Linked DNA regions of Homo sapiens: regions 1, 3, 4 and 5 are each linked to region 2. The links come from fine-mapping of genetic effects on gene expression. A gene starts in region 2. Each other region holds a variant in brackets. All regions are shown on one strand. Distances are from middle to middle.

Region 1 (5,099 bases), 78 kb after region 2:
TTTAAAAATTTTTTAAAAGATAAAAAGAAAGGCGTCCTCAGGCTGCTGTAAATGAACCCACTCAGCACTGTGGACCTTGGGGCCAGGTTTGTGCTTATATGTAGTAGGGTGTAGAGCATCTCTCAGCCCCACCCAGTCCATTCCAGGAGCACCCACCCCCAAGTCCTGACCCCCAAGTTGTGACAACCTCAGATATCCCCAGACATCGCCCAGTGTCTCCCAGGGCAGCAGAGTCACCCCCCAGTGAGAAATATCATTCTACCTGGCTCAGCTCCCTGACACCAGCCTCCCCCTTGTACAGAAGAGGGACCCAACCAGGTGCAGTGGCTCATGCCTGCAATCCCAGTGCTTTGGGAGGCAGAAGTGGGAGGATTGCTTGGGGCCAGGAGTTTGAGACCCGCCTGGACAACACAGCGAGACCCCCTCTCTACAAAAATTTTAAAAATTAGCCAGGCGTGGTGGCGCATGCTTGTAGTCCCGGCTACTCAGGAGGCTGAGGCAGGAGGATCACTTGAGCCCAGGTTGTTGAGACTGCGGTGAGCTATGATCGAGCCACTGTACTCCAGCCTGGGCAACAGAGCAAGACCCTGTCTCAAAAAAAGAGAGAGAACTGGCTGTAAAGGATGGCACCCATGGCTGAGGTCACGCAGCCAGGGAGGAGCTGGACCCGTGGCCAGGCAGTCCCTGAGCCCCAGGCTCAGGAGTGGCTGTGCAGTGCTCAGAACCATGCCCATTTCTCTCACGTCTCTGCCCTCAGAGGACCAGCTGCCCTCTGGCTTCCCCAACATCGACATGGGCCCACAGTTGAAGGTGGTGGAGCGGACACGGACAGCCACCATGCTCTGTGCAGCCAGCGGCAACCCTGACCCTGAGATCACCTGGTTCAAGGACTTCCTGCCTGTGGATCCTAGTGCCAGCAATGGACGCATCAAACAGCTGCGATCAGGTGAGTGAGGGTGGCTGACAGGACGTGGGAGCCTTGGAGGGCAGCAGGGGGTGGGGAGCATCTCCAGGGCCCAAGTTCTGGGGACTACTGGAGGACAGACAGAGACAGTGTGTGGCCGTGGCAGGCGTTGGCTCTGGGGGAGTGGGGGCAAATGTCTTCAAAGCCGCACACTGAGGATATTAGGGGGCACAGATGGGCATGAGTACTGGAGAGCTATAGAGGGTGGTAGAAGAATAGTGCTTCAACACCTGGCCAATGAAGATATAATGGATGCAGACATGCACAAGGATGGGGAGTTATATAGGGCCATGGGCGGGGAGAGTGTCTCCCATGCTCAGGCAGTGAGATCACAGCTGTCACCCACAGACAGTTGTGGGTGATAGGAAGCCACTGAGGGGGCTGGGCGCAGTGGCTTATGCCTGTAATCCGAGCTCTTTGGGAGGCCAAGGCAGAAGGCTTGCTTGAGGCCAGGAGTTTGAGACCAGCATGGGCAATGTAGCAAGACGCTCATCTCTGAAAAGAAAGAAAGCCGCCAAGGATGGTGGGTATCGGCAGTGCCCAAGCAATGGGAGACAGACAGGCAGAAGTGTCAGTGAGCCATGGAGGGTGACAAGGGGAGACCAGCTTCAATGGGTATGTAATAGGGAGCTATGGAAGGTGGCAGAGAGCATCCTCTACAGAAGCATTAGGCACGTCCAGTGAGAATACAGTGGGGCCCAGACAGGCAGGAGTAGTGGAAGCTGTGTAAGGCAATGGCAGGTGTCCAGAGGTGACAAGTAAGGTGATGGGGAGCCATAGAAAACTACAGGGAGAGAGTCTCTCCAAGGCTGAGCAGTAAGAGGTGATGGCGGGGCTTCAGGTCTGTAAGGGGGCACAGACGGGCAGTCCAGCCTGTCTGTTCAGGCCCTGGCTGGGCTAGGGAGACCTTGGGACAGAGCCTTGGAGACGGGTGGTTCCACCATTGTGTCTCCACAAAGCACCCACATGGCCCATCTGTGGGTCCATCTGTCTGGGGGGCTGTGTCTGCGTGTGTGTTGTCCCCCCGCTTCACGACATGTCCACGTGTGCATGTCTGGGCTCCCTGTGCCGGCCTGGCCTGCCTCCCGCCTGTGGGCACAGGTGTGCAGGCCTGGCTGCTGTCACACACGGGCCTCCCTTCCCCCGCCCGGAGCAAAGTGTCCGCCTGCATCTCGGCCACACGTGCACCCACATTGCAGTCACTCCCGTGCCTGTGCACACAGGGCAGTGATCCGCGCACGCGCCTCTCAGCCTGCACCTCCCTAGTGCTCGTGCGTGGGGACACACGTGGTGGGGATGTGTCTCCATACATTGGGAGCACACGTGTGGCTGCACATGCGTGTTTGTCTGTGTCACGGATTTACTGTTTTCAGTTGTGCCGGGCTTGACGCCCTGCCTTCGTTCAGGTCACTGTTGAGATCACCCTGCACCTCCACACACCCCTCTTTTTGCTTTCTCTCTCCCCTTCCTCCGAGGATCCCGCCACGGAGCCCCCTTTGCAGCAGTACCTCCCCGAATCATCCCCAGCGCCCCTCACTCACTGCCCATCGTTGCCCCCCACCAAAGAGCCTACCTACCTGTTCTCCGCTTTCTGCTCCTCCTCCTTAGTGAAAACCAAGCCCCAAAAAGATCAGACGTGGAGCCCAGAATGTCTTCCTTGGAGAGACTCAGACCTCACACTGGGGGGACAAATCGCCTCCTATCTCCCAGCCTGGCTGAGGATGTTTGCAGCTCATAGGCCTCTGCAAGCAGGGGGAGCGGTGGCCTCAGTTTCCCCATAAAACATGCCTATTTTCCTTGTGTTCTGGTGACCTCTCCAGGATGGAATGTCTAGCGCCTGCTAGGTGCTCAGTGAACATAAGCCACTTTAGGAATCATAAGAAATGTTGTTATTATTATTCTGAGCGTCCCCCTCCCCTCCCCCGCCCTCCCCTCCTCGCTGAGGACATAGGATTCTTTGTAACCACCCGTTAACGTTCCTGTTCTCTTTTCTTATCCTCCTGTTGTAAACGTTCAGAAAC[C/G]TTTGGTAAGTCTGATTTCATCACCACGTCAACAACTAACGCCCCATCCCCTTTGTGCCCCTTCTGCTCCCCTTCTCCTCACCAAACTAACAGCCACCGTGATGGTAACTGTGACCCACTCTGCCTGGTATGTTTACTAACGCCCTCTCCCTCCTCCCCGCGACCGGCCCCTCAGCCCTCCCCAGCTGGCACTAGTGTGCGGCAGAGAAAGAAACCCAAAGGAAAAGAGGAAAAGAGACAAGTCCACCCAAAGGAAAAGAGGAAAAGAGACAAGGCCAGGCAGACCTCAAAATGCAGGCTGAGGGGGGTTCAGAGGCATCCTCGGGCTCATGGAACTTCGCACCTAACAACATTTCCTCCCGCACTTTTTTCTTGGCCTTAGCCCTGCTGGAAAAGGATTTAATTACAGAAGTTTGGGGGCTGGGGCTGGGCGTGGAGTGGAGATTTTTCCAGCCTAGCTGCTACTGGGCACTTCTCATCCACTTTTCTCAGCATTCAGCCTGAATCTCCTGAAATCAGTTGTGGGACTAATTCATACTAAAGTGAGAGTGACTGATATCAGCCTATGCTATCAGTCCCTTCATCTCTCTCAGGGTGGGAGGCGGAACACCTTTTAATGGCTAAGGGATACATTGTTTCCACTTGATAGAATAGCCCTGAGTGATTTGGCCAACTTGAAAAGACTTCTTTTTTTTTGAGACAGTCTTAATCTGTCACCCAGGCTGGAGTGCAGTGGCACCATCTCGGCTCACTAAAGCCTCCACGTCCCCGATTCAAGCAATTCTCCTGCCTCAGTCTCCTGAGTAGCAGGGATTACAGGCACCCACCACCACACCCGGCTAATTTTTGTATTTTTAGTAGAGACGGGGTTTCACCATGTTGGCCAGGCTGGTACCCCAAACTCCTGACCTCAGGTGATCCACCTGCCTCGGCTTCCCAAAGTGCTAGGATTACAGGCGTGAGCCACCACGCCCGGCCTGAAAAGACTTTCTTTAACCCTGACTTCCACCATCGTCATCCCAGTGTCCTAGCAAAGGCCAGCCTGGATTTCCGCTGACTCGGATTCCAGTTCTCCAGGGTGTAACTTTAGGCAAACTTCTGTTTGCTCCCCTCTAAAGGGTGCAGAGTGGCCTCACGAGAACACCTCGAAAGATAATTCAGGGACTCCGAAAAGTTCAGGCCAGAAGCTCCTCATCCCAGGAGGCTGGAGAGCTAGGCTCAGTGCCCACCCCTGCCTCATGATGGGACCTCAGAGATTCCCCTCTGAGCCTCAGTTGGCCCGTCTGCAAAATGGGTTTGGGCCACGCAGAAGGAGCTGCTTTTTCACGTGTCTGGCCACTCCTGGCAGATCGAGGTCTTGGGATCTTCTTGGCCCCAGCCAGCCGAGTTATCAAGTTATCGGCCATCAGCAGCAGAGAGAAGGGGGCCCAAAACTTCTCCCTGGATCATGAGCAGAGGGAGTAACGTTCCAGCCCCGAGCCGCCTTTTCCTGCTTTGCAGTTAACCATCCCTGCCTCCAAGGCCCAGATAAACAGGTCTTTCCTCTTTTCCTCTTGGTAAGAAGGCTGCCAGGCTCTCCCTGTCCCTCCTACTCGGCCTGTCTGTGACACCCTTCCTTGGCTGTATTAATGCCCGGCACTGGGGCACTAACCCCACCCACCTCCCCTGTCTCTAACAAGATAATTCCTGTTGCTCCTTGTCCCCTCCTAGTCTGGACTTGAAAGCAGTCTCTTGCTGGGCTCCCTAAGACGGAAAGAAGGAAGGGGGGGTGATGAACCTCCCTCCCTCAGCCCAGAGGGAAGGCCACCAAAGGGCCAGGCTGACAGACCTTCCCTGGGCATAGAGACGCCCCTCACCCATCCAGAGAGGCTTCTAGACTCCATCCCTCCACCCCCAGAGATTCCCGCCTTCTACAGGAAACCCTCCTGCTTTGACAAGCCCTCAGACCTCACCCTGCTCCTAGGAGGCCTCTCCTAGCTTCCTCAGCAAAGCCCGCAGGGTCCGTATGCCCAGGGCTGGCTCGATCCCCTCCCTGGGGCAGAGTGCTGAGGCCTGGCTTACGGCCCAGCCCAGCTTCCCTGGGGCCCCCCGGCCCCCCAACAACCGCCTTGTGA
Region 2 (5,099 bases):
AGAAGCGATTCTCCTGCCTTCTGAGTAACTGGGACTACAGGCACGCGCCACCACGCCCAGCTAATTTCTGTATTTTTAGTAGAGATGGGGTTTCACCATGTTAGCCAGGCTGGTCTCAAACTCCTGAGCTCAGGCAATCCACCTGCCTTGGCTTCCCAAAGTGCTGGGATTACAGGCGTGAGCCACCGCACCTGGCCAACGTATTTTTTGTTTGAGAGGGAGTCTCACTCTGTTGCCCAGCTGGAGTGCAGTGGTGTGATCTCAGCTCACTGCAACCTCTGCCTCCCAGGTTCAAGCAATTCTCCTGCCTCAGCCTCATGAGTAGCTGGGACTACAGGCATGCACCATCACACCTGGCTAATTTTTGTATTTTTAGCAGAGACAGGGTTTTGCCATGTTGGCCAGGCTGGTCTCGAACTCCTGACCTCAGGTGATCCACCCGCCCTGGCCTCTCAAAGTGCTGGGATTACTGGCATGAGCCACCGCGCCCAGCTGCTACAATGTATTTTAATTCTGTTTTTGATGTATTTAATCTGTTTTCTTTGACTGCTCACAAAATCCCTCAGAGGTACTAGTGGTTGTCCCCCTTTTCTAGATGGGGACAGCTAGGCTTACAGTGTTGCGGCCACTTGTTTGAGGTCACCTCCCAAACAGGTCACTGGGCTGGGGTTCGTGCCATGATCAGCCCCTCCACGATCAGCCATCTCATTTTACTGTGTCTCCACCAATTCTCCAAGGCTTCAGCACCCACTGTGCGTGAGAAACCACGCTAAGCATTTGTGCACAGACCACCCCATTTGATCCTTCAAGATGGGATCGTGTTCCCATTGCTTGGATGAGAAAACTGAGGCCAGATTGTAAACGGTCAGATCAGGGTCACCCCACCAGGAAGAAAAACAAAGTAGGCTCTGCAAACGTGGCTGCTGCACTGGCCGCTGGGAAACTCCAAGCTTAAATTAGGTTCCTTGTTAAATTATTCATTATCTCCTCTCTTTTCTCCTGTTTATGACTTCCGCCTTATCGTTTTGTTCCCCGGGTTAATGCTTTTTGTTTATCTGCATCTGTGGCCTGGAATGAATGAATCAACAATTTTGGAGGAAAAAAAAAACCAATTCTAAAGTTGAGTTCCTCTGTTGGGCACCAGGCCTTCTCCAAATATGTGCCTTGAGGAAATAAATGCTTTCGACATGATCAAAACACAAGGACTGATGTGCAATCTTGCTTGGTGGCTGTGAGCCCTCCAACCCCCTTACCTTTGTCAATATCCCCCTTTTATTTACTTCCGCTCTGTTTTTTTTCCTTATTTTTGAGAGTCTCACTCTGTCGCCCAGGCTAGAGTGTGCAGTGGTGTGATATTGGTTCACTGCAACCTCCGCCTCCCGGGTTCAAGAGTTTCTCCTGCCTCAGCCTCCCAACTAGCTGAGACTACAGGCACCTGCCACCACGCTCGGCTAATTTTTGTATTTTTAGTAGAGATGGGGTTTCGCCATGTCGGCCAGCCTGGTCTCGAACTCCTGACAAGTGATCTGCCCACCTTGGCTTCCCAAAGTGCTGGGATTACAGGCATGAGTCACCGGGCCCGGCCTCTTTTCTCTTATTATTCCATCTTCAGGCACCAATGGCAGCCAGGCTGCCACATTATAGCAATTCATCATCACACCCTCCTTAGGAGCAGGGGCTACCTTGCCCCATTTTACAGATGAGAGCTGAGATCCAGAGGCAAATCCATTCTACAGATGGGGAAAGTGAGGCTCCGGGCCTCACACAGCAAATCAGTGTTTTAGCTGGGTTCCAACTGTGGCTCGTCCTGACTCCAGGGAAGCAGGGGATGGTAATTAGGTGAGACCTGTGTAAAGTGCTTACTCTATAAGAAGTGCTCCATCATCCATTCATTCATGTGTTCAACCTACAATAGGGATCTCTGGAGCCACACTGTAGTGTAACTAGAATAAAAACGGGATAATGGGACCAGGCGCGGTGGCTCACGCCTGTAATCCCAGCACTTTGGGAGGCCGAGGTGGACGGATCACTGAGGTCAGGAGTTCAAGACCAGCCTGGCCAACATGGTGAAACACTGTCTCTAACAAAAATACAAAAATTAGCCAGGCGTGGTGACAGCACGCCTGTAATTCCAGCTACTCCGGAGGCTGAGACAGGAGAATAGCTTGAATCCAGGAGGCGGAGGTTACAGTGAGCCGCGATCACGCCACTGCATTCCAGCCTGGGCGACAGAGTGAGACTCCGACTCAAAACCAAACAAACAACAACAACAACAACAAACCGGGATAATGGGATAGAGTGGAGTGGGGCGTGGCTGGTAGCTGTTGTCAGGGAGGGCTTCTCCCAGGCGCTGCTTATTTGAGCAGAAATTGGAAAGATGAGAAGGGGAAGTTCTTGGATGCTCAAGTTAGAGGAACTGTAAGAAGCTGGCTGAGGCGGGAGGATCACCCGAGCCCAACTACTCAGGAGGCTGAGGCGGGAGGATCACCTGAGCCCAGGAGTTTGAAGCTGCAGTGAGCTATGATCATACCACTGTACTGAGGCCCAGGTGGCAGACCCCATCTCTGAAAAAGCAAAGAAGGAGCAGCTGGTTTTTCTGGATCATTGACATGGTGGGGGGGAGGGGACAGGGTAGTGGGCGCTAATGTGAAACGGCGAGCTGCAGAGAGGAGGCGGGATTTTATTCCAAGGGTACTGGGGAGCCGTGGCACAGTTTAGGGCAGCGCACAGAAAGTGCCATGCCCTTTGCACCCAGGACGCTGGGGCTCCCGCACGGACAGTAGCCCCAGGGGCCCTTCCCGCCGCCGCCGCAGCCGCCACCACCACCACCACCCCAGCCGCCCACGTGTCCCGCGAAGCCCCGCGCCCCACGTGCTCCCGCGGCCCTTTAAACACCCCGGAGCCACGTGACCGCGCTGCGCCGTCCCATTGGCCGGGGGGCGTGGCGGCCGCGCGGCTGCGCAGTGACGCGCACGGGCCGGCCCTGCCCCCGACCCGGCGGCGGCGGCGGCGGCGCTGGCGGAAGGGATGACGTCACCGGCTGGGGGGGCGCGCGAGCGGGAGCTAGGGGAGCGCGAGCCGCAGTGAGTGTCCTCGCGCCGCCCGCCCGGCAGCCCGGCCGGCGCGCGCACGCCGCGAGCCGCTGGCGCTCGGGCTCCGCTCGGATCCCATGCAACAGCCACGATGTGAAGCGGGGCAGAGCCGGGGGAGCCCAGCCCAGCCAGCCTCCAGGTAAAGCCAAAAAAAAAAATAAAATCATGGATTAGAGGAAAAAAAAATGCAGGCGCTCCAAGGGGGGTCTCGGAGGCAGCCGAGTGGGCAGCGCGCCGGCTTTGTGCCGGGGAAGCCTGCACGGCCATTGTGCTCGGAGGATGCTCGGCTGCAGCCAGTTGCACGCCCAGCCGCTGCGCCCCGGTAGCTGCGCCCGGACAATGCCCCGAGGGACAGGGCCGGGGCCGCGCTGGGGGCGCTCGGCAGGGGGTGCTGGGGGGGCTTCGTCCGCGGCGTGGGAGGGGGCTGGGCTGGAAGCGCCCAGAGCGCGGCATTGGAAGCTGCCCAGCGCCGCCGGCTGCACCACCCCGGGCTGCGGGCGGGGCAGAGGCGCGGAGGGGGGCGCGCGTGTGTGCGGAGCCGGTGCCGGCCCCGGCGGCGCCCGGCCCGGGTCCCCGGGCGGGTCCTGGAGGCAGGGGGCGCTGTGCCGGGGGATGGGGGGCATGCGGGCGCCCCGGAGCGGAGAGGAGCCGGGACGGGTGGCTCCAGGCGGGGTGGCTCCAGGGCTGCTGCGCCCGCCGCCTTCCCTCTCCGGGTCTCCCTCCCCTGGAGACCCCCTAGTCTACGCCGTCTCCCCTGGAACACTCCGGGCCCTGTCGTTGCCTTATGGGAGGTCGCCCCTCCGGCACTCGGGCATTGCCCCACCCTTCTGCGGCCTCGGCGCCCCCTTCCAGCCTCCCCACCCAGGGGCGAGCCTCAGCCCCCAGCCCCAGGGGCTCTGGCAGGCAGACGCGCACGCCCAGCACCCCAGTCTCCCCTCCGCGCTGGGGGCCCCGTGGGGATCCCGAGAGTGGGGAAGCCGCCCCTGGAACCGCCAGCCCCGCGGGTTCCGCACGCCCCGGGAGCCCCCGGGGGCTGCGGGGGGAGGGGAGGTGACGTCATACCGGGGGCGGGGCCGTCGGCACTGGGTTAAAGGGGGCGCGGGGCGTGCCCTGAGGGGAGCCCCCCAGGTTAGAGTGCCCGCGCCGTGGGTGCGAGGGTTCGGCCAGGTTGCGGCCAAGTTCACCTCTCTTTATGGGAATCTCTCCTAAAATTAAGATCCTCCCCTTCGGACCTCCCCCTACAAATCCTGGACATTTCCCACCAATTCCCCCCCTTCCCAAATTGGGGAACTCCCCTTCGGCCGCTTTCTCTCCAGAATCCTCAAATCAGGGAACCTTTCCCACAAACTGGGAATCTTTTTTTCAGCCACACCCCCCGCCCCAAATCTGGGACCTCCTTCTTCGGTTGACCCTCTTTCCCCAGTCTCAAATCGTCTTCTCGTCTCCCTAAATATGCAGCTTCCAAGAACGCCCCTTCCTCTGCAACCCTTCCTCAAATCCAGCCACCTCCTGGGACCTCATTCCCCCAAATTAACAAACCTCCCAGAGCCTCATTGGGGGTGCCTTGCCTCCCCCTTCTGGGCTCAGCTGGGATTCCCCTGTCCCCCCCCGTCACAATCTAGGGGAGCCCCCTTCTGAGCATGGGGTCCTCCTGCCTCTGGCCGAGACCCTAAAAACACATCCCGGCAGCCGCGGCTAGTGAAGCGGGTGTCCGAGGTGTCGGAGTCCCGGCTGAGCAGCAGGGATGATACCTAGAAGCCGGAGGAGGCAGGAAGAGACCCCTAGGGTCCCAAGGACAGGGACCCACACGCTCCGGGCTCCCGTCCGCCACCACCCGGACTTTGGCTGCTGGGATTCTGGCCTCCTCTGGGTGGCCCCCTATCGCTGCTGTCCTTGGGGTGCAGAGGGTGACGGCGCCTCTTTGTCTGGGGCGCCCTTCTTCCCTCTTTCTGCCGCCTTTCGCCCGGGAGAAGGAAGCCATCCCGCTCCTCTGCTCCTGCGATACCA
Region 3 (5,099 bases), 140 kb after region 2:
GCGTGGTGGACATCTTTCAGACGGTGAAGATGCTACGAACCCAGCGGCCGGCCATGGTGCAGACAGAGGTAAAGATGGGACAGGGAGGGGAGGCAGCCTGGCCTCACGCCCCGACTGCCCCTAAGCTCCAGTTTCCTCCTCTGTGAGATGGGTACAGCCACCTGGGACTCTCTGGGTCACTGTGGGTAGACGGTCCACAGACCCCTCCCGCACTGGAAGGGGACCAGTAACCCTTTTAACACAACAGTCAGCTGAAGGTCAAAGGCGAGAAGTGGCCCTTGGAGTGGACAGAGATGGGCTCATTGCAGTCCCCAAGTCACAGCAAGTCTGTGGCTCAGCCTGGACCCTGCCAAGAACCACTGACCCCCAAGTCCAACCAATGTACAGATGGGGAAACTGAGGCCCAGACTCCTAGCTTCAAGGGGAATGTTCCAGTGGAGGGGGTTCTGAACAGCAGCCATGTCTTAAAAGATGAGTAGAGGGGACCCGGCGTGGCAGCTCACACCTGTAATCCCAGCACTTTGGGAGGCTGAGGTGGGAGGATCGCTTGAGCCCATCCTGGGCAACACAGAAAGACCCCATCTCTACAAAAAAAATAGAAATGAGGCTGGGTGTGGTGGCTTATGCCTGTAATCCCAGCACTTTGGGAGGCCAAGGCAGGCAGATCACCCGAGGTCAGGAGTTTGAGACCAGCCTGGCCAACATGGCGAAACCCTGTCTCTACTAAAAATACAAAAATCAGCTGGGCATGGTGGTACACGCCTGTCATCCCAGCTACTTGGGAGGCTCAGGCAGGAGAATCACTTGAACCCAGGAGACAGAGGTTGCAGGGAGCCAAGATGGCGCCACTGCACTCCAGCCTGGGCAACACAGCGAGACTCCGTCTCAAAATAAATAAAAAAGAAAAGATGAATAGGGCCTCCAGGCAGACGGGAGGAGAGGGCGTTCCGGGTGAAGAGCCTGGCTGTGTTAGGCAGAGAGGTGTGGCATAGCTCACTTCATTGTGGGAGGGCCGTGGGGGCCAAAGAGACCTTCTGCAAGAGACACGCACAAGGCTGAGGAGCTTGGCCTGCTCCTGAGGGCGATAGGGAGCCCTGGGAGGCGTTAGAGCAGCGGAGGTACTAACAGGTCACCTCTGCTCCCCCAGGATGAGTACCAGTTCTGTTACCAGGCGGCACTGGAGTACCTCGGAAGCTTTGACCACTATGCAACCTAAAGCCATGGTTCCCCCCAGGCCCGACACCACTGGCCCCGGATGCCTCTGCCCCTCCCGGGCGGACCTCCTGAGGCCTGGACCCCCAGTGGGCAGGGCAGGAGGTGGCAGCGGCAGCAGCTGTGTTTCTGCACCATTTCCGAGGACGACGCAGCCCCTCGAGCCCCCCCACCGGCCCCGGCCGCCCCAGCGACCTCCCTGGCACCGGCCGCCGCCTTCAAATACTTGGCACATTCCTCCTTTCCTTCCAATTCCAAAACCAGATTCCGGGGTGGGGGGTGGGGGGATGGTGAGCAAATAGGAGTGCTCCCCAGAACCAGAGGAGGGTGGGGCACAGACCATAGACGGACCCCTCGTCCTCCCCCAGCGGTGGTAGGGGGACCCGGGGGGCTCCTCCCCGCTCTGCAGCCTGGGGACACTGGGCTGGGACCAGAATCCAGCTTTCTTTTAAAACTCTCAGTGTAACTGTATCCCGTGACATTTCATTTTTTTTAAATAGTGTATTTTTTTTTCCATTTTTTTTTTTAAGAGAAACAAACAAAAGACTCGCCAGTCAATGACTTTCAAAGAGAACTAACTTTGGCTTATTCATATTCTGTTCAAAGACAGTCTATTTTTTCACTGTAGAAAGCGTCCTTGTGTGATAGTTACGTTCGCAAACGCGCACGCCAGGCCCATGGCTGTACCTTGGCTTTTTTTTTTTTTTTTTTTTTTTTAATTTTTCCTACCATCAGAAAGTGTGCTTTGCTCACAGAAGAATGGGATGTCCTTTTTTCTTTCTTGGCTTTTTTTTTCCCCCTTTTTGTTTCATTTTTATAAATTAAATTTTCAGACATATCAAATACAGTTCTGAGGGTAAGGTCATGGGGGAGCTCGGACCCAGTGGCGTTGGGTGCGGTTGAGGGGGACGCTGCTGTAAGAGGAGAGAGATGACAGTGGTCCTCCTCTGAGAGCCTGAGCTGTCTCCCCGTCTCCCGCCCCCAAGGAGACAGAGAGGATCCTACTTCTTCGGGGACAGTGGCTGTATGGCTGTGCTGCCCCACATCAGGGACCCTTTCCCCCTGGGACTGTGGGGCAGTTTGGGAGCAAAACCAGAAGGACAGGCCCCCCTCTACCCGCCTACCCTGAG[C/G]AAGCGAGTTGTTCCTCTTTGTACAAGGGCAGGTCTGCGGTTACTTTCAACACTGTTTATTCCAGCGGAAGCAGCCGGGTGGTTTTCCCACCCCCGTGTATGTAGATATATCGACTTTGTATTAAAGGAAGATCGTCTGACCCCGGCCCATTGTGGAGTCTTTGTTGCGCCCCTGCCTGTCCAGTTTCATCCCTGGGGTGGAGGTCGGTGGGGTCCTGGAGAGCTGATCTCGTTTCCTTGTGTGAACAGTCAGAGGAGGAGTTGGCCCAGAGAGGTGGTGGTGCTTGTCCAAGACCACACACCGCTGAGGCGGGTGGATCACAAGGTCAGGAGTTTGAGACCAGCCTGGCCAACATGGTGAAACCCAGCCTGGCCAACATGGTGAAACTCAACTCTACTAAAAATACAAAAATTAGCCAGGCGCAGTGGCGGGCGCCTGTAATCCCAGTTACTCAGGAGGCTGAGGCAGGAGAATCGCTTGAACCCAGGAGTTAGAGGTTGCAGTGAGCTGAGATCATGCCATTGCACTCCAACCTGGGTGACAGAGTAAGACTGTCTCAAAAAAAAAAAAAAAAAAAAAACTCAAAACACCGATGAAGTGGCCAGGCCAAGATTTGAACCCAAGCCCTGGTCCTGTAGGGGCTGCCTCGTGTTCTCATTCTAATAAGTGACCATGACTGAGAATTCACCATGGGCCAGACACTCTGAGATAGAAGTTACCAGCCCCTTGGCCAGGCGCGGTGGCTCACGCCTGTAATCCCAACACGTTGGGAGGCCGAGGCAGATGGATCACCTGAGATCGGGAGTTCGAGACCAGCCTAGCCGACATGGCAAAACCCTGTCTCTGCTAAAAACACAAAAATTAGCCAAGCATGGTGGCACCTGCCTGTAATCTCAGCTACTCAGGAGGCTGGAGCAGGAGAATCACTTGAACCCAGGAGGCGGAGGTTGCAGTGAGCTGAGATCATGCCATTGCACTCCAGCCTGGGCGACAGAATGAGACTCCCATCTCCAAAAAAAAAAAAAAAAAAAAAAAAATCCCCATTTACATATTAGGAAACTGAGGCTCAGGGAGGGGCACACAATGAGTTTGAGGTGGAGCTGGGATTCGTACCCCAGCCCATCTCACCCGCAGCCCTGAGCATCACACGGTGCTGCCTTCTCGAAGTGCCCTGGGGAAGAACTGAGTCCGTGGAGGGAAGCAACAGGTTGGGGACACTCTGCTCCACCCCTAGGCCACTCAATGAGCAGATCCATGCACTGAGCCAGAATCACATCCCTGGGGATGGAGAGTGAGCCATTTTGTATCTATACCCTTGCCTGAGTCACTTCTTGCTTGGGCATAGAAGCCACCCACAGGAGCCAGAGATAGGATGAAAGAGCCCCCTATGACCTCAGGGAAGTTCCAGGAATGAGAAGGGGTGATCTTAGTGACACCAGGGACCCAGCTCAGGGAAGAATAGGACTATGTCTCTTAGAAACCAACAGATCAAGGCCGGGCGCAGTGGCTCACGCCTATAATCCCAGCACTTTGGGAGGCTGAGGCGGGCAGATCACGAGGTCAGGAGATGGAGACCATCCTGGCCAACATGGTGAAACACCGTCTCTACTAAAAGTACAAAAAACTAGCCGGGCATGGTGGCAGGAGCCTGTATTCTCAGCTACTTGGGAGGCTGAGGCAGGAGAATCCCTTGAACCTGGGAGGCAGAGGTTGCAGTGAGCCAAGACCATACCACTGTACTCCAGCCTGGGTGACAGAGCAAGACTCCGTCTCAAAAAAAAAAAAAAAAAAAAAAAAAAAGAAGCAACAGATCAGGTAGTCAAAAAAATACAGATGTGACTAACATCATTAATAAGCTTGGCCAAAAATATTTAACAAACCCTATTATCCCCTCCTACTCTAACATTCTCAAACGCACATGGAACATTTGTGAAAATTAACAGAGATCGGCTGGGTGCAGTGGCTCACGCCTGTAATCTTAGCACTTTGGGAGGCCGAGGCAGGAGGATTACCTGAAGTCAGGAGTTCAAGACCAGCTTGGCCAACATGGTGAAACCCCCCGTCTCTACTAAAAATAAAAAACATTAGCTGGGTATGGTGGCACACGCTTGTAATCCCAGCTACTCAGTGGGCTGAGGCAGGAGAATCGCTTGAACCCAGGAGGAAGGAGGTTGCGGTGAGCTGAGATCGCGCCTCTACACCCCAGCCCAGGTGACAGAGCAAGACTTCATCTCAAAAAAACAAACAAAAAATATTAACAGAGATCTTCACAAATTCCAAGAAACAAATATTAGATGAGGTATCCTGATCTTGGCTCTGAAGAGTAATTAGCCTCCCCTGGAAGGGGGAGGGAAATTTTAAAATACTTTTTTTGGCGGGGAGGTGGGTGGGGGACAGAGTCTCGCTCTGTTGCCCAGGCTGGAGTGGCTGAATCTCAGCTCACTGCAACCTCCATCTCCCAGGTTCAAGCGATTCTCCTGCCTCAGCCTCCTGAGTATGTAGCACTACAGGCGCCCACCACCACACCCAGCTAATTTTTTTTTTTTTTTGTATTTTTAGTAGAGACAGGGTTACAGGGTTTCACCATGTTGGCCAGGCTGGTCTCAGACTCCTGACCTCAAGTAATTCGCCCACCTCGGCCTCCCACCGAAGTGTTGGAATTACAGGTGTTAGCCACCGTGCCCAGCCTTAAAACACATTTCTAAATAAGGTATGTGTTAAATCAATGTAATCCGGGCGCAGTGACTCATGCCTAT
Region 4 (5,099 bases), 44 kb after region 2:
TGACTTGAGGAGCAGAATTTTAAATTTTATTTAATTTTTCTTTTTCTTTTCTTTTTTTTTTTTTTGAGATGGAGTCTCGCCCCGTTGCCCAGGCTGTAGTGCTGTGGCATGATCTCACGTCACTGCAGTGTCCACCTCCTGGGTTCTAGCAATTCTCATGCCTCAGCCTCCCATGTAGCTAAGGCTACAGGTGTGCACCACCACACTCAGCTAATTTTTGTGTTTTTAGTAGAGATGGGGTTTTGCCATGTTGTCCAGGCTGGTCTCAAACTCCTGGCATCAAGCAATCCACCCACTTTGGCCTCCCAAAATGCTGGGATTACAGGTGGGAGCCATGGCACCCGGCCTATTTAATTTTTCTTCATTTAAGTTTAATGAGTCACATGTGGCTAGTGGTCCTTTTTCTTTTTCTTTTCCTTTATTTTATTTTATTTCGAAGCAGAGTTTCACTCTTGTTGCCCAGGCTGGAGTGCAATGGCGCGATCTCAGCTCACTGCAACCTCCGCCTCCCAGGTTCAAGCGATTCTCCTGCCTCAGCCCCGAGTAGCTGGGATTACAGGTGCGCACCACCATGCCCGGCTAATTTTTGTATTTTTAGTAGAGATGGGGTTTCACCGTGTTGGCCAGGTTGGTCTCAAACTCCTGACCTCAGAAGATCCACCCATCTTGGCCTCCCAAAGTGCTAGGATTACAGGCGTGAGCCACCACACCCAGCCACTAGTGGTTCTTGTATTTGATAACTCAGACCCAGACAGTGAGTAAAGACAGAGAATTTCAGGTGACAGTAAAATAATGGGTAATGGGTGATGGGTGCTGCTTGAGCCAGGTGGTCAGCCAGGGCATTTCTGAGGAGGTGATCCTTGAGGGAGAATGGAAGGGTGAGAAGAAAAGTGACAAGAAAATGTAGAGGAACAGTGTTCCAGGCAGAGGCATAGCCTGTGCAAAGGCCCTGAGGCAGGACTGCACTTGGGGTGCTGGAGGAACAGCGAGGAGGCCCATGTAGCTGGAGCAGAGTGAGGGGGAGAGAGGGAGGAATGGAGGGCAGGGAGGAGATGGAGCAGGTCATGCAGGGCCTTGTGGGCCACCAGGAGGACTTGGGCTTTGACCCTGAGGGAGGTGGGAGCCATGGAGGGCTGTGGGCAGAGGAGGGACGGGACCTGACTCAGGTGCACACCGGCACCATGTAGTGGGTGCTGTGGGGAGGACAGACTGGAGGGCGAGGGTGGGAGGCTGGGGACCAGGGCAGAGGTGACTGTGCTGGTCCGAGCAGGCAATGATCAGGCTGGATGGGTTGGGAAGGGAATATGGAGAAAGATGGACAAAGTGAGTAGAAATTTAGGAGACAAACGTGAGAGTATTTCCAGACCAACACCATATGGGGTGAGGGAGGAAAAGCAGTGAGGGCCAGCTTCCAGGTTCTAGCCTGAGCCCCTGGAAGGACAGAGCTGCTATCAGCAGAGTTGGGGAAGACATGGGAGGAATGGCTTTGCTGGATCCAGCCATGCCTGAAGGTGTCACACATTTTCCAGGAAGGGGAAGGTAGCCTGGCCTGCGGGGGCGGACAGGTGAAAAAGGCAGACATGGAGCTGGGGCGTGCCTGTGGTGGGCATCATGCCCGCTGCGGTGCGGCTGGCGGGTAGACCCGGCGCCAGGGCTGTGATGTGAACATGGGTGAGGCGGGCTCCTGGCTGGTTGGCACCCGCCCATGCCCCGGGTCATGAATGCTGTGCTAGGTAGGAGGCGGGAGCCTTGGGCATGGGCAAGACCAGGGCAGGGAAGCTGAGAGGAAGCTGCCCAACCAGTTTCTCTCTGGCTCTCACAGCCAAGAGTACAGAGTTTGTACCTAAATGAAATGTCTGGGGGTTTTGGTGCCAAATATGAAGGAGGTGGGACAGACAGGCTGGGGGAGGGGGTCCTGCCCCGGTCAAGGGTATGGTTTTATCTGAGGGTTCCCCATCAGGGAAGGTTTAAAGGCTTGAGAACATCCCAATGCAGTCACCCCTGCTTTGGAAGTTTCTTCAGGAGACGAAGGGACACAGCTGTGTCTAAGAATGTCCCTCACAGTGTTGTTTATAAGGGACATAATGGGATAAACAAGTGGGAATTGATTAAATTCTGTGACCCGGACACTGGAACATGGTCTGCTAATGGTGATCCCCATCGAACGAAAGAAAAGCACCCATTCGTATGCATAGAAGAAAGACTGGAAGGAGGCCGGGCGCTGTGGCTCACGCCTGTAATCCCAACACTTTGGGAGGCCGAGGCGGGCGGATCATGAGGTCAGGAGTTTGAGACCAGTCTGGCCAACATAGTGAAACCCTGTCTCTACTAAAAATACCCAAAAAATTAGCCGGGCGTGGTGGTGTGCGCCTGTAATCCCAGCTACTCAGGAGGCTGAGGCAGGAGAATTGTGTGAACCCGGGAGGCAGAGGTTGCAGTGAGCCGAGATCGTGCCACTGCACTCCAGCCTGGGCGA[T/C]GGAACGAGACTCTGTCTCAAAAAAAAAAAAAAAAAAAGAAAAGAAAAGAAAGACTGGAAGGAAATGGTTAGCCTCAGGGCCATCGTATTTGCTGTTCCTCCTGCCTGCAACTCTGTTGTCATAGGTGTTTGTATGTCTGATTTGCTCTCTTCCTCCAGGTGTAAATGCAATTATCACCACTTCTAAGAGGCTCCCCCAGGGACCCCCCAGTTTTTGCAGCCTTGCAGTGTGGTTTATTTAATTATTTTTGGCATCTCTTAGCACTGCCCGGCCTTATGTTATTGACAGTGTTTGTTTTTCTGTGGGTGTCCATCCCCCCTGCAACTAGTCTGTGCCCCCCAACAGGGGCAGGAGTGCTGGTTCCATCATGCTTACCACTGTGTCCTCAGCACAGCACACAGTAGGTGCTCAGCACATGTACAGGGAAAGAATGAATGAGAACGGCCGCATGAAACAGTTTCTCTCTAGGCGAGGGATGGATTGTGGGTAACTTTTATTTTCTTCTTTATGCTGATTTTACCTAATTTTCTGCTGCACGCGCCTATTTTATAATTAGAAGAAAAGTTATTTTGAAAAAAATTACCCCCCAACGTCCCAGCTGTGGGAGCTGACGTGATCCAGCCCCGTGTTCCTCCCCAAGGGCAGCCGCCTCCTGGGTGTATACAGAGGACATATCAATGGAACGTTTTTGGAGGGGTCCAGGGGTCAGCCCCCAAGGGCACGGAGTAGGCGGGGCAATCAGGGAGGGCTTCCTGGAGGTGGCCACCCTTAACCTTTAGGGTGCTCAGGCCAAAAACCCAGAAGTCATCCTTGAGTCCCCTCTTTTCTGTACATCCCCAAATGAGCCGTTTAGAAAATTCTATTGGGTCTGCCTAGAATGTGCCTTTCTCCCTCATCCTCTACCCAGTCCAGCCCCAGCCTAGTCATCCCCCACAGTCTGCCCTCCCCACAGCAGCTGAGCATGTCTGTGAGTACCTGAGTCAGGGCCTTCCTCTACCCACAGCCCTCCATGGCTCCCACCTTCCTCAGGGTCAAAGCCCAATTCCTCCTGGAGGCCTCTGAGGCCGTGCGCATCTTGTCCCCATTCCTTCCCTCCCCTCCCTCCCCTCCCCTCCTCTTTGTCTCCCCTTCCTCACTCTGCTCCAGCAACACTGGCCTCCTCGCCATTCCTCCAACACGCCAGGTGCAGTGCTGCCCCGGGGCCTTTGCATGGACTGAGCTCTCTGCCTGGAATCCTCTTTCACTTTCTCTCACCTTCTCCTGGTCTTTGTTCGCATGTCACCTCCCCTCTCTCCTATCCTGTGTTTATTTTATTTTACATTTTTTTAGAGATAGAGTCTCGCTCTGTCGCCCAGGCTGGACTGCAGTGGCACCATCCTAGCTCACTGCAGCCTCAACTTCCTGGCCTCAAGCGATGCTTCCGCCCTCAGCCTCCCAAGTAGCTGGAACCACAGTCATGCGCCACCAGGCCCAGCTAATTTTTAAAAGTTTTTGTAGAGATGATGGGCTATATTGCCCAGGCTGGTCTCAAACTCCTGGCCTCAGGCGATCCTCCCTCCTCATCCTACAACCCTGAACCCAATCATCCTCAGGGCCCTTACCACCATCTGACCCACAGTGGATTTGATTTCTTTTGTTTCTCATGTGTCACCCTCTTTAGAGCATCCACACCCTGAGGGCAGGGATCTTTGTCAGTCTTGGTCACTGTGTGTCTAGGATTGTGCCTGGCATCGGGGCTTGGAAATGTTTGTTTAGAAAAGGGTAGGCTGGGCTTAACCTTATTACGGGCTCATGTCTGTGATCCCAGCACTTTGGGAGGCTGAGGCAGGAGGTTCACTTGAGTCTAGGAGTTCGAGACCAGTCGGGGCAACATGGGGAGATCCCATGTCTACAAAAAAATCCAAAAATTAGCCAGACGTGGTGGCATGTGCCTGTAGTCCAAGCTACTCAGGAGGCTGAGGTGGGAGGATCACTTGAGCCCAGGAGGTTGAGCCCAGGAGGTTGAGGCTAGAGTGAGCCATGATGGTGCCACTGCACTCCAGCCTGAGCAACAGAGCGAGACCCTGTCTTGAAAAAAGGGTAGGTGAAGATGCCTGCTTTATGACAAGGGCACACACAGTGTGGCCTTTGGAGGAGAATAAGGTCGGAGGGGCTCTCCTGGGTGAGGCTGGGCCTGATTGTGCAAATGTTTGCTGAGAACCTCCTTTGTACTGTGGACCTGTGCTAGGTGCTGGGGACACTGGGTGACCGAGACAAATCCTGCTCTGCCTCCTGAGGTCACAGTCTGGTGGGAGAGGCAGACCCGGGGACTAGGCGCATGTAGGGCTCTGTGCTGATGGGGCCACCCAGCCAAGGGGGAGGGCACCTGGCCCACCTCCCCCAGCCCCTCGGGGGTGGCTGTGTCCCCTGCCAACTGCAGTCACCACTGTGGAATAGGGGCAAGAGTCTGCCTCCACAGAGACATGGACAAGAGGCCCAGAGAGGGCAGGACTGGCTGGGAAGCGGCTGGCAAGCCCTTGTCTGCCGTCCCGAGTCCTGGGCAGCCCAGAGCCAGGCCTGTATGCTGCAGGTCATGCAGCCCCAAGCCTCCTGACAGTGTGGATTCATTGAGCACCTGTTCAG
Region 5 (5,099 bases), 110 kb after region 2:
GTCCTCCCGCCCGGTGGTGAGCGCTAAGAGCGCCCAGTTATTCACCGGCAGCCACTCGGCATCCTGGAATCGGACAGTGGCACTGCCCGGGGCAGGGCCGGGCGCCCTGGTAACGGCTCCGCCCGCCCCTCCCCTCCCCTCCCGCCCGCCAGTGCCCAGCGCGCCGCCGCGGAAGGTGGAGGCGGAGGCGCTCAACGCCACGGCCATCCGCGTGCTGTGGCGCTCGCCCGCGCCCGGCCGGCAGCACGGCCAGATCCGCGGCTACCAGGTCCACTACGTGCGCATGGAGGGCGCCGAGGCCCGCGGGCCGCCGCGCATCAAGGACGTCATGCTGGCCGATGCCCAGGTGGGCGGGGGGCCGGGGCGGGGCCGGGGACGGGCTCCGGGCGGGGACGGGCCCTTGCGCTCCCCCCACCTCTGCTTCTCTTTCTCCATCTCTGGCCTCCCCCGCTCACCTTCCTCCTCTCTCCCCTGCCGCCTCCTCCCGCGCTCAGTGGGAGACGGATGACACGGCCGAATATGTAAGTAGCGCCCCTGGCCACCCACCTACTGCTGTGCGCTTCCCGCGGGCCGTGCTGTGCTGTGACTCCTGCACGCCCCTTATCATCAGTAGTAAAACGGTCTCCTCCTCTGGGCCCTCCCATGCGCCCCTCGCTCTCCCATTACCTCTTGGAGCGCCCAGCCTCGATGTTTGCACCAGGGAAATGGGATACTCGGACCACTGTGCGCCCCAGGGGGCAGACCCGAGGGTGGCTTGAGCAACAGGACCTGAGGGTCGTCCCTGAATCCTCTCACCCTGATGGCTCCTGCCATTGGTGGGGCTTAAGCCTCCTGGGTCCTTCTCCTGCCCGTAGTCATTTCTCCTGTGAGTATGTCTCCTCTCCTGTTGACCCAGCCCCACCCTTTACTGTCACTCAATTCAGCCCTGTCTGGCCTAGAAATGCCTCTCTCTGGATATGCTGTCGTCTTCATTCTGGCCCCCGGGTGATGAGAGGTGTCAGCGGGGCCAGAGTGGGGAAGGATGTCTGTGATAGCCTGGTTACAACCCCACAATGCTTTAAACCAGAGAGGAATTGCTGTGTGACTTGGGGCAAGTTGCTACCTCTCTCTGGACTACCTCTCTGCCCCTAAAACGGGAGTACCAGTCTCTGCTGAGAACCCCAGGTCTGACATTAAATTGGCACTGGTCCCTTGGCTGGGCGTGGTGGCTCATGCCTGTAGTCCCAGCACTTTGGGAGGTTGAGGCAGGTGGCTCACCTGAGGTCAGGAGTTCAAGACCAGCCTGGCCAACAGGGCAAAACCCCTTCTCTACTAATAATACGAAACAGCCTGGTGTGGTGGCAGGCACCTGTAATTCCAGCTACTCGGGAGGCTGAGGCAGGAGAATCGTTTGAACCTGGGAGGCAGAGGTTGCAGTGAGCCAAAATGGCACCACTGCGGTCCAGCCTGGTCAGCAGAGGGAGACCCTGTCTCTTTTTTTTTTTTTTTTCTCCAGACGGAGTCTCACACTATCGCCCGGGCTGGAGTACAGTGGCGCCATCTCGGCTCACTGCAACCTCCACCTCCTGGGTTCAAACAATTCTCCTGTCTCAGCCTCCCGAGTGGCTGGGATTACAGGCATGAGCCACTGGTCCTGGCTGATCCTGTCTCTAATAAACAAACAAACAGGCACTGGTCCCACATGCTCTGATGCCTCCCATCTCTCACCCACACTGGATCTAGAGGGAATGTTCCCACCTGGGCTTCAACTCTGCTCTTCTCGCAGAGACCCTGGGAGGGATGGACTGTGAGGCTCAGGGGTAGGAGACCCTGTTTGTGCATCCCCGTCACCCCTCCTTATCCCCTTGGCCTGGGTCTACCCCACAGTTCCCAGGCATGCCGGCCTGTGCTTGGGGGGGTGCGTGTGTGCTTGCAGACATGGGCACACATGATGCTGTGATCGTGTGCACAGGTGTTGTGCAAGTCCGCGTGCCCGGGAGTGTTCTGTGCTGTCATTCATTGGACGAGCACTCACTTATTGAGCACCTACTATGTGCTAGATGCTGAGGATGTGGTGGTGACAAGAGCCCCTCCTCCCTAACAGTCATACTCAGTGAGAGGGATGTTAATCGGAACAAAACACACATCGGCAGGGCATGGTGGCTCACGCCTGTAATCCCAGCACTTTGGGAGGCCAAGACGGGTGGATCAGCTGAAGTCAGGAGTTCGAGACCAACCTGACCAACATGGTGAAACCCTGTCTCTACTAAAAATACAAAACCAGGCGTGGTGGCGCATGCCTGTAATCCTAGCTACTCGGGAGGCTGAGGCAGGAGAATTGCTTGAACTAGGGAGGCAGAGGTTGCAGTGAGCTGAGACCATGCCATTGCACTCCAGCCTGGGCAACAAGAGCGAAACTCTATGTCCAAAAAAAAAAAAAAAAATTGTTACAGCTGTGGTGGGGATGGGGTTTAGACAGTGAAATAAACATTTAAAAATCAGCTCTCAGCCAGGCACAGTGGCTCACGCCTGTAATCCCAGCACTTTGGGAGGCAGAGGCAGGCGGATCACTTGAGCCCAAAGTTTAAGACCAGCCTGGGCAACATGGCAAGATCCCATCTCTACAAAAAATATAAACATCATTAGCCAGGCATGTGGTGGTGCACGTCTGTATTCCCAGCTACTTGGGAGGCTAAGGCGGGAGGATCACTTGAGCTCAGGAGGTCAAGGCTGCAGTGAGCTATGATTACACCCTGCACTCCAGCCTGGGCGACAGGGTGAGACCCTGTCTCAATAAGATAAAAGAGTAAAAATCAGCTCTCTGGGTGGGCAGGAGGGGGCAGTCCTGTTTTGTAGCATTGGACCGTTTCCATGGTGTAAATACTTCCCACCATGTCAATTTCAAGCTACCGGGGAGGTGCCCAGTAGCCCATAATCATGTATTCCTACTCTACAGATGCAATAGACAAGATGATCTCAAAGCAGTAACCATACAGATACCCACAGAGAACAGTAACCCTAGTGAAATAACTAGATTTGCTGTATTTATTGCCTTTGCTTTCAATATAACTTAGTTGATTGTAAGTTTATACAGTTT[A/G]TTTATTTATTTTTGAGACAGTCTTGCTCTGTCACCCAGGCTGGAGTACAGTGCCACGATGTTGGCTCACTGCAACCTCCGCCTCCTGGGTTCAAGTGATCCTCCTGCCTCAGCCACCCCAGTAGCTGGGACTACAGGCATGTGCCACCACGCCTGGCTTTTTTGCTTTTTTTTTTTTTTTTTGGTATTTTTAGTAGAGACGAAGTTTCACCATGTTGGCCAGGCTGGTCTGGAACTCCTGACCTTAAGTGATCCTCCTGCCTTGGCCTCCCAAAGTGCTGGGATTACAGGCGTCAGCCACTGCGCCCAGCCTCGTACAGTTTAATTTTTAATAACAGCTCTGTTTCATAAGTGGCTCACAAAATTCCTGAAAATTTAACCAGCGGCTCTCATGAGTTGGTACCGGGCACCTCCAGCACACCAGTGGGTGTAGACAGGGGGGAAGGCCAGTGCCAAAGGGCCTGAGGCAGGCTGTGCCTGGTGCATTGGAGGAACAGCAAGGAGAGCCCTTTGTGAGCCACAGGGAAGACTTGGGCTTTGACCCCAAGAGAGGTGGGAGCCATGGAGGGCTGTGGGGAGAGCGGGGACGGACCCTGACTCCAGTGCTCACAGGCGCCCTCTGGCTGCTGTGGGGAGGACAGACTGTCGGGGGTGATGGCAAGGAGTGAGGGGAGCGGAGCAGAGAGGACCGAGTTGGTCCTGGCAAGCGACAATGGGCTCGTCCGGCTGGGTTGTTGCATGTACCCTCTGAGCATGGCCATGCCACGTGTCGTGGTCTCTGCATGAGCTCATGTGCACGTCTCCACCCCTGATCCGGGCCCTGCATCCTCCTTGCTTGTTCTCAGCACGGGGAGTGGGGGTGGGTGGGGCTGCTCCCAGCCCCAGCCGTCGTGCTGACCCCCAGCCGTGCCTGCAGGAGATGGTCATCACAAACTTGCAGCCTGAGACCGCGTACTCCATCACGGTAGCCGCCTACACCATGAAGGGCGATGGCGCTCGCAGCAAACCCAAGGTGGTTGTGACCAAGGGAGCAGGTATGCAACCCGCCCTCCTCCCACCCACCAACAGCCCCTTTGCCCCCACTGGCACCAGAGCGTGACTCCAGAGTCCTTGAGCTCACAAGGGCAGGCAGAGGGTGCACCAGGCAGCTGGAACAGTGAGACAAAGGTGTGAGGGCTGCTCAGGTGGGTGTCCAGGGCCCAGCTTGGCCCCCCCCGCCCCTGCCTCCTCCTTTGTCACTCACTTCCTGTCCCCCCGGCTCCCACCAGACAGAAACAGTTAACAGCCACCTCTGACCCCTTTGCCCTCTCAACCTTTACTTGGGCTGTTCCCTCTGCCAGGATACCCCTTCCCCTGCTGGCTGGCTCCTCTTCTGCCTTTAGGTCTCAGCTCAAGGTACACCTGGCCCTGGAAAGCCTTCCCTGATTGCCTCATCCCATAATCTTGATCCTTCTGGGCCCCCTAGTCTCCTGTGCTTCCCCCATCCAGGCTCTGGTCGCCCCGGCTAGGTTGTTATTTCAGGGTGGTGCACCTGTCTTCCCCTACTGCACCAGGAAGCCACCTTTCTCTTGGTGGCCCTGCCTCAGTTTCCCCTTCTAGCCCCTCCATTGTCCCTTCCATCGTCCCCAAGGGGCTGGCTTTTTTTTCCAGCCAAAATGGAGCTGAATTAAGAAAAAGAGGCTGCCGTGAAGATGTAAGGGGAGGGTACACCGGGCGGAGGGCACAGCCCAGAAAAAGACTTGGGGGGTGGGGCGTGGTGGTGGTGGTGGTGGGCGGAACAAGCTCGGGTGTTTCAGGAACAATCGACTGACTTCTGTGGCCTTCATCCCAGTCCCCACACCCACCCTCTCCTCGGGGACCCTTGTAGCCACACCACTGTGTACCCCACCTTTCAGGCCTCCCAGCTGGACACAGCCCCTGCCCTTGTCCACACTATTCCCTTCACGCACCTTGTCTGCGTCCTCCAGCATCCAGCTCTAACGCCACCTCCTCCAAGCAGCCTCCTGTGATCTCTCCCTCCCTT

What was found. PIP is the estimated chance that this variant, and not a neighbour inherited with it, causes the effect.
Region 1: its variant is fine-mapped to the expression of PTPRS in whole blood (TOPMed, PIP above 0.99).
Region 3: its variant is fine-mapped to the expression of PTPRS in whole blood (TOPMed, PIP above 0.99).
Region 4: its variant is fine-mapped to the expression of PTPRS in thyroid (GTEx, PIP 0.91).
Region 5: its variant is fine-mapped to the expression of PTPRS in whole blood (TOPMed, PIP above 0.99).

The regions. Positions count from the first base shown.
Region 1 is chr19:5,260,855-5,265,953 of GRCh38, reverse strand. It overlaps PTPRS (protein tyrosine phosphatase receptor type S), which reads left to right. Exons shown (of 38, transcript NM_002850.4): 5 at 758-946; 6 at 2,982-2,990. Among named protein-coding and RNA genes, the nearest start is that of PTPRS, 77 kb to the left of the region's middle. The variant C/G (reference allele first, on the strand shown) is at 2,986.
Region 2 is chr19:5,338,796-5,343,894 of GRCh38, reverse strand. It overlaps PTPRS (protein tyrosine phosphatase receptor type S), which reads left to right and starts at 3,083. Exons shown (of 38, transcript NM_002850.4): 1 at 3,083-3,231. RefSeq lists a silencer at 2,876-3,155 and an enhancer at 5,022-5,099.
Region 3 is chr19:5,202,891-5,207,989 of GRCh38, reverse strand. PTPRS (protein tyrosine phosphatase receptor type S) reads left to right here. Exons shown (of 38, transcript NM_002850.4): 37 at 1-68; 38 at 1,148-2,482. The coding sequence ends at 1,216. Among named protein-coding and RNA genes, the nearest start is that of PTPRS-AS1, 28 kb to the right of the region's middle. The variant C/G (reference allele first, on the strand shown) is at 2,343.
Region 4 is chr19:5,295,207-5,300,305 of GRCh38, reverse strand. The region is part of intron 1 of PTPRS (protein tyrosine phosphatase receptor type S); the gene reads left to right. Among named protein-coding and RNA genes, the nearest start is that of PTPRS, 43 kb to the left of the region's middle. RefSeq lists enhancers at 1,607-2,107, 4,520-5,099. The variant T/C (reference allele first, on the strand shown) is at 2,477.
Region 5 is chr19:5,224,738-5,229,836 of GRCh38, reverse strand. It overlaps PTPRS (protein tyrosine phosphatase receptor type S), which reads left to right. Exons shown (of 38, transcript NM_002850.4): 15 at 153-346; 16 at 495-521; 17 at 3,993-4,110. Among named protein-coding and RNA genes, the nearest start is that of PTPRS-AS1, 50 kb to the right of the region's middle. RefSeq lists enhancers at 3,287-3,905, 3,906-4,525. The variant A/G (reference allele first, on the strand shown) is at 3,077.